Linked DNA regions of Homo sapiens. The protein of the gene in region 1 purifies or fractionates together with the protein of each later gene. This does not show direct contact. Each region holds a gene or a part of one and is shown on either strand. Other genes may lie near its edges.

Region 1 (3,600 bases):
CACAAAAGCTACGCCGAATAGGGGTTCACACGAAGCCACATGAGAAGGCAGCCAGGGGCCTGGGAGCCAGGGCTTGTTCCCCTGATGTCCCAATGCCACAGGTAGCAAAGCAGAGGCACAGAGAGGAACTGGGGAGGTCTCCGGGTGCCCACTCCCTGCTCAGCTCCCGGGAGGAAGTAGAAGGCTCTCTCACGGCTTCACCCAGGTTGGAGCCAGGAACAGGAACACCTCCTTTCCAGCCGCCAGCATTTCAAACCAACCGGTGCCAAAGGTGACCTCAGGCCGGGTAACCCATGATGCCCCGCAACACGGGCTGTTGCAGGAACCCCATCTTACCTCTCTGTGTTCCATCTTCTCCTGAGCCCAGTGGAAGGGGCCGCAACCCCAGACTCAGGGACCCCCCCACCCCAGACCTCAGCGGGGCCTGCTGGCCCAGCTGTCAGAGGGCAAGGGCGAGGCTCAGGAAATCCTCTGACCGCCCTAGGCCACAGGGCCAGAGCCAAAGACCGGAGCAAACAAAGGTCCCATGGAGCTGGGGGCCCGGCCACCGGGGTCCTGAGTCACCCAGCTGCCGCTGCAGGGCGGAGCCCCGCAGGAAATCGGAAAATGTGTACAAGCTACGTCTGGAACAGGCGGAGGGACCTCCAGAGGAAGGGGGTGGGAGGGGGCAGACCGAGCCCCAGCCCTGAAGGCGGCCTAAACGACTGGCTTGGGCGCTCAAGGAGTCTACACGCACCCCGCAACACCCCCATGGTCCCGTCTGCCCTGGGTTGGAACTCCAACATGGACACACACACCACCTCCTTTCCGCTCTTTGCGGGGACCCACTCCTGTCCGCAAATGCCCCCCTCCCAACCACTCGCTCCGGAACAGGACACCACCTCTCCCTCCTCAGGAGCAGATAGACATGGCCTCGGTCCTCCGGGCCCACGCGCACCTACTGCCAGCTCTGGCAGGAAACCCAGCCCCCTCCGCATTCTAGAACCCGCTATGTACCCAAAGGTTCCCGCCCTGGGGCGGGGGAGGCCGCTCCCCTCTCATCTACGCTCCCCTCGTGCCTCCTGTGCTCCGGGAAGGACTCCTGCCACTGCCAAGCGCGCACAGACTGCGCCCCCCGCTGCGCGCACATTCTAACCCCCCCAGGCCCCTGTGCCCCGCCTTTCTATCCCGGCTAATTCCCGTCGGCCTTGGAGCCCCACCGAGGAGAACCGACTTAAGGACACTCTGGGGACCACCCTGGTGGCGCACACTGCGGACTCAGCCGTCCTCGCTCACGGGCTGGTTGGGGTTCAGTCTCCGGGTCAGCCGCGGACTGATTTGGAGACTGTGCAAGGTCCAGGAACCACCGAACCCGGAGATCAGGTCTGCTCTGCGAGGGCGTCGCGGGGCCGGGGCCAGGGCAGGGGCAGGGAAGGGGCGCGGGTGAGGGGAGGATCGGGGGAAGCGGCCGCGGTTCGGGGCTCCGGGGCGATGACAGAGGCTTTCTCGCACCCCCCGGGCCCGCGCGCCCCTCCCACGCCGTTCACCTGCCGCGGCGCCCCCTCCTCCATGGCGCCGCTCCGGCCGCTTGGGGCCCTTCTCTCAGCCACTCCGGTCCCGGAAGCCGCAGACCCTCCGCCAGGACTTTCAAACTTGAAACTTCCCGGGAAGCGGCGCCGGAGACGCGGGATCGGGCGCCCCCTCCCGAGACCCGCTGGCCCGCGGGACCAGCGCCGCCTCCCGTCCGCGCCGATCCAGCGCCCGGGACCCCACGCCCGAGGTCCCGCGCCCCAGCGCCTCCCTCGGATCCAAAATTCCGCGGGATTCTGGGCCCAGTACCCGGGCTTCGGCGCCTGCGGTTCCCGCTGGGCGTGACCGCGCCTCACCCCCGGTTTGGACGCTCAGGAGGCACATCGCCCGCGCCCAGGTCCTCTGGCCTTCCCCGCCGCGCGCCCGCGGGAGCCGGCCAGTTAGGGACAGGGATGGGGGAAACAGCGCCCCCTGAAGGTTGCCGGGTCGCCCAGCCGGGTGCAGCCGGTGGAGCTGGCCGCCTCCTCTAACTTTGAGCCCCTCTACAACCTGGCTCCCGCCTCTAACGCGCTGGGCCTCCTCGACCAAGCCCCTCAAGTCTCTCTTTGTCTCGCACGTTGTTGGTGTAATGTGGGCTAATCCAAAATTGTCTCTCTCCTCGGAGTGGTTGGCCCAGACTAGATATTAGTCACTACAAGAATGTATACTAGGCCAGGTGCGGTGGCTCACGCCTGTAATCCCAGCAGTTTGGGAGGCAGAGGTGGACGGATCACGAGGTCAGGAGTTCGAGACCAGCCTGGCCAACATGGTGAAACCCCCGTCTCTACTAAAAATACAAAAATTAGCCGGTCGTGGTGGCGGGCGCCTGTAATCCCAGCTACTCAGGAGGCTGAGGTGGGAGAATCACTTGTACCCAGTAGGCGGAGGTTGCAGTGAGCCGAGATCCTGCCACTGCCCTCCAACCTGGGTGACAGAGCGAGACTCCATCTCAAAAAAAAAAAAAAAAAAAAAAAAAGAACGTATACTTGTGGAAAAGTAAATCCTCACCCAAAATTATGATAAATTACAAATTACAGATGAATGAACCAGACCTCTCTCCGGCCCATCTCTTACTCAGACTGAGCTTGCTGGTTCAGCCCGTGCCACTTTTTAGGGCTTTACCCTAAAAAGCCCATCCATCCACACGGGAGAAAAGCCATTTACACCTGGTGAAATAGCCGCCACTATTTCAGCCCAAGGGAGGTGTGCTGGTCACTGCCTAGTCTATGGCGGGCCATTCAGCCCGTCCTGGCATCCTGCGTTTACAGGAGGTTGTGTCAGCACTTCGTGGAGGAGCGTCCTCCAGGAGGTGGGAAGGTGATGAAGGGTCAAATACCGACAGTGACTTGGAACAGACAGGCTCTGGTGCTCTTACTGAATGAAGGAAGCCACATGTTGTGCTTTGCACTAATCACTTCCTTCATAATGGACTGGAAAAAAGTGAAATTGGTGAGCCATGGACAACACTGGGTTGTCCTGCTATGGGAAATCACCCAAGTGGCATTGACATATAAGCAAAGGCAACTTGGCTCTGTGAAACATGCCCAGATTTCATAATCAGAGGCGAAATGTGACATTTACACATTAGAGTTGTTGAGGTCTAGACATTAGCAGAAGCACCTGGCACATAGTAGGTTCTTTGACATGGGGGTTGGCTGGGCATGGTGGCTCATGCCTGTAATCCCAGCACTTTGGGAGGCTGAGGAGGGCAGATCACTTAAGGTCAGGAGTTCAAGACCAGCCTGGCCAACATGGTGAAATCCCGTCTCTGCTAAAAAAAAATTAAAAAGGCAGCTGGGCGCGGTGGCTCACGCCTGTAATCCTAGCACTTTGGGAGGCCGAGGCAGGCGGATCACAAGGTCAGGAGTTCGAGACCAGCCTGGCCAACATGGTGAAACCCCGTCTCTACTAAAACTACAAAAAAAAAATATTAGCTGGGCATGGTGGTGGGTGCCTGTAATCCCAGCTACTAGGGAGGCTGAGGCTGGAGAATCACTTGAACCTGGGAAGTGGAGGTTGCAGTAAGCCAATCTCGCCACTACACTCCAGCCT
Region 2 (3,816 bases), on another chromosome or scaffold:
ATATCTGGTTTTTGTTTTTTTGAGACGGAGCCTCGCTCTGTAGCCCAGGCTGGGGTACAGTGGCGCGAACTCGGCTCACTGCAACCTCCGCCTCCCGGGTTCAAGCGATTCTCCTGCCTCACCCTCCTGAGTAGCTGGGATTACAGGCGCGCGCTTTTTGTATTTTTAGTAGAGACAGGATTTCACCATGTTGGTCAGGCTGGTCTTGAACTCCTGACTTCAGGTGATCCGCCCGCCCCGGCCTCCCAAAGTGCTGGGATTACAGGCATGAGGCACCGCGCCTGGCCTGGTTTTTAATTACGAAGAAAAAATTACTATAGTCCCTTTGGTATCACCTACATTGGCAAAATTGCAGTCCCCCTCCACTCCCTGAAGCCACCAGAAATGACTGCTGTTGTCTACAAAGCCTACAGCTCTGATTTCATCTCAAGATGTGTCCTACTGGGTGACAGCAAATGCCATTTTTTAAAGGCTTGTATCTGTTATAAGCTTGGGAAATATTATCATGGCTTAAGAGGCTCTTTTGACAAAAGAAAACACTGTTCCCTGAAATCACCTGGGCTGTTCACGGGAATCTTTTCCTCGCCCTTCTGGTACTTGGACAAATGATCAAGGATATCAACAAATCAAGGTTCCCCGCATTTGAATGATCACAGAATTTTTGCGTGTTCTGTAAATGGGCTAAAACTACTGGAAACTGATTTCTTTTCGTCATCTCCAGGGCAGCTTGCCCAACGTGCCGCGACTATGATGTCTTAGACTTAACTACTTAAGGTAATACAATTACCAAATTCCTGGAAACGCAAAATTTCCTCAGACAGGTACCGGATTATTCACATCCAACCTGATGCAATTAACCACGTCTCAAGAAAAAAGGACGTTCCGTCCGCCTCGGGCGCCGGCCACAGCAGAAGCAGCACCGGCAGCAGGCCCGGGGTCCGCCGCCTGTGGCCCCTGCTCCTCCGCTCTGCGCCCTCGGGGCCACTGAACAACGCTGTCCCCGCCCCAGGCAAGGGACCCGGGCGATGGGGCGGCAGCCCCAGCCTCTCCCGGAGCGGCGGAAAGGCAAGCACGAGGGTCGCACCCGGCCTGTCTGCACACAGTCAAGCCGCAAGCGGGGTCCCAGAACCAGCTGAACCCCAACACCAACGGACGAAGGCCAGTGGGTCTCGGCGGCGAAGCCTGCGGGTTGTTCCAGAAGCCCCGAAGCCCAGAACGAGGACGGCGCGGGAAGGGAAAGGCGCAGGCGCGGGACACACTGGAGGGGCCCAGGAGCAGAGACGGCGCAGGCGCTGGGCCTGCCGGGGTCTGCGGGGACGCCCGGGCGCGGCAGCGCGGGCGGCGCTGAGGCGATAAACCAACCCGCCAGCGAACACTGCGGGAACCCGGCTGCTGCTCTTACCGCGCTGCACCGCATCGCTCCCTCGCAATCTCCTGGTTTGGGCTGGGCGGTGAGCTCACCCGGTGGCTCAGCCGAGACCCGTTGAGTCCGGCCTCAGGAAAGCAGCCTACCCCGCAGCGCCGCTTGCCGGGCCGCCCGGCCTCCCTCGCGGGCCCCGCCCTTGGCCAGCCCCTTCGCGCCCAGCAGGGCTGCGGCCGTCTGCGCAGGCGTCGTGGAGGCCCCGCCTACATTCCTTCACTGCGCAGGCGCCGCCGTCCCCCACCACCACCCCCTCCCCTTCCCCCATCTCCGGCTCGCGTCCGTCTCGGCACTGGGTCGCGCAGCCGCTCTGCCACTTGGCCGGTCAAGAAAGTAGCCGGCCAGCCGGTGCGCATGCCTCAGGTCTTGGGCTGGAGCCGGGCAAGGCGGGTCCCTTCAGAGGCCCCACTGGGCCCAGCGGAATGATGCTCAGAGTCCGCTAGTCCCAAAAGTTCTCCTCAGCGTGTTTACCGTGTGCCAAGGACTGTGCTATGCATGAGCCAGACAGCAGTGAGGAAAACACAAAGCCCTGTCCTCCTGGCACTCCCGGTACATAAGGGAACAGACAAAAAGAATAAGCGAGCAACATATATGTATATATATATGTATATACATATATATATACGTATATATATATACGTATATATATATGTATATATATACATATATATATACGTATATATATATGTATATATATGTGTATATATATACATATATATATGTATATATATATATATATATATATAAAATATTAAAGAAATTCTGGGGGAGTTCGAGTTCCATCGGCCCCCATCCGGGCCACCCTGCCACCTTAGCGGCTGCTCCTCCCCAGAATGCTGATGCCTAAGAAAAACCGGATTGCCATTTATGAACTCCTTTTTAAAGAGGAAGTCACGGTGGTCAAGAAGGATGTCCACATGCCTAAGCACCTGGAGTTGGCAGACAAGAATGTGCCCGGCCGGGCGCGGTGGCTTAGGCCTGTAATCCCAGCACTTTGGGAGGCCGAGGCGGGCGGATCACGAGGTCAGGAGTTCAAGACCAGCCTGGCCAAGATGGTGAAACCCGTGTCTACTAAAAATACAAAAATATTAGCCAGGCGCGGTGGCAGACACCTGTAATCCCAGCTAGTCGGGAGGCCAAGGCAGGAGAATTGCTTGAACCCAGGGGGCGGAGGTTGCAGTGAGCCGAGATCGCGCCCCTGCACTCCAGCCTGGGCGACAGAGTGAGACTCCTCTCAAAAAAAAAAGAATGTGTGTGCCCAACCTTCCTGTCATGTAGTCCCGAGGCTACTACGTGAAGGAACAGTTTGCCTGGAGACATGTCTACTGGTACCTTACCAATGAGGATATCCAGTATCTCCGTGATTACCTTCATCTGCCCCTGGAGATTGTGCCTGCCACCCTACGCCGCAGCCGTCCAGGGACTGGCAGGCCTCGGTCTAAAGGTCTGGAGGGTGAGCGACCTGCAAGACTCACAAGAGGAGAAGCCGACAGAGATACCTACAGAAGGAGTGCTGTGCCCCCTGGTGCCGACAAGAAAGCCGAGGCTGGGGCTGGGTCAGCAACCGAATTCCAGTTTAGAGGCAAATTTGGTCGTGGACACCGTCAGCCACCTCAGTAGAATTGGAGAGGATTATTTTGCATTGAATAAACTTACAGCCAAAAAGACTTAAAAAAAAAAAAAGAAAAAAATTGTATTATGTCGCAAATGAACCTGTTGCAATGATCATACAGGTTTTTTCCTTTGATAGTTTGTACTACTTTAATAGTTTTTTCTTTTATTACATAATCTTAGTTTCCTAGGAAAACCCCAACTTGGTCGTGATACATGTTTAATCCATTGCTGGATTATTTGCTAATATTTTATTTAGCGTTTTTGCATATATGTCCATAAGAAGTTAGTCCATACTTTTGCCTCCTTGTACTATTTATGTCTGGTTTGGTTTTAAGCCTATACTAAATTCACAGTGAGTTGGGGAGAATTCCATTTGCTTCTTTTTCTGAAAGATTATCTAGGCTGGGCACTGTGGCCTACGCTTGTAAAACTAGCATTTTGGGAGGCCGAGGTGGGCGGATTACCGGAGGTCGGGAGTTCAAGAACAGCCTGGCCAACATGGTGAAACCCCATCTCTACTAAAAATACAAAAAATTAGCCGGGCACACCTGTAATCCCAGCTACTCTGGAGGCTGAGGCAGGATAATTGCTTGAACCTGGGAGGCAGAGGTTGCAGTGAGCAGAGATCACGCCACTGCACTCCAGTCTGGGCTACAAAGCGAGACTTTCTGTCAAAAATAAATAATTAATTTTTAAAAATTATGTAGAAGATAAAAACTTTATGTTCTTTTTAATGTTTGCTGTCCATAAAATCATCTGGGCCAGGTACTTTTCTTTGGTTT

Evidence for each region. The genes of interacting proteins can lie anywhere in the genome.
Region 2: the proteins of PKN3 (region 1) and SPECC1L purify together in Homo sapiens (affinity purification with mass spectrometry; 2 studies listed by BioGRID and IntAct, with this or other methods). This does not show direct contact.

Annotation. Positions count from the first base shown.
Region 1 is NC_000009.12:128,700,866-128,704,465, reverse strand, and holds the start of PKN3 (serine/threonine-protein kinase N3), read right to left. Parts: upstream 1,964-3,600; 5' UTR 1,551-1,963; coding exon 1,527-1,550; exon of another isoform or gene 1,042-1,526; coding exon of another isoform or gene 997-1,041; exon of another isoform or gene 352-996; coding exon of another isoform or gene 337-351; intron 1-336.
Region 2 is NC_000022.11:24,268,570-24,272,385, reverse strand, and holds the start of SPECC1L (cytospin-A), read right to left. Parts: upstream 1,556-3,816; 5' UTR 1,403-1,555; intron 1-1,402. UniProt on the Homo sapiens protein: Involved in cytokinesis and spindle organization. May play a role in actin cytoskeleton organization and microtubule stabilization and hence required for proper cell adhesion and migration.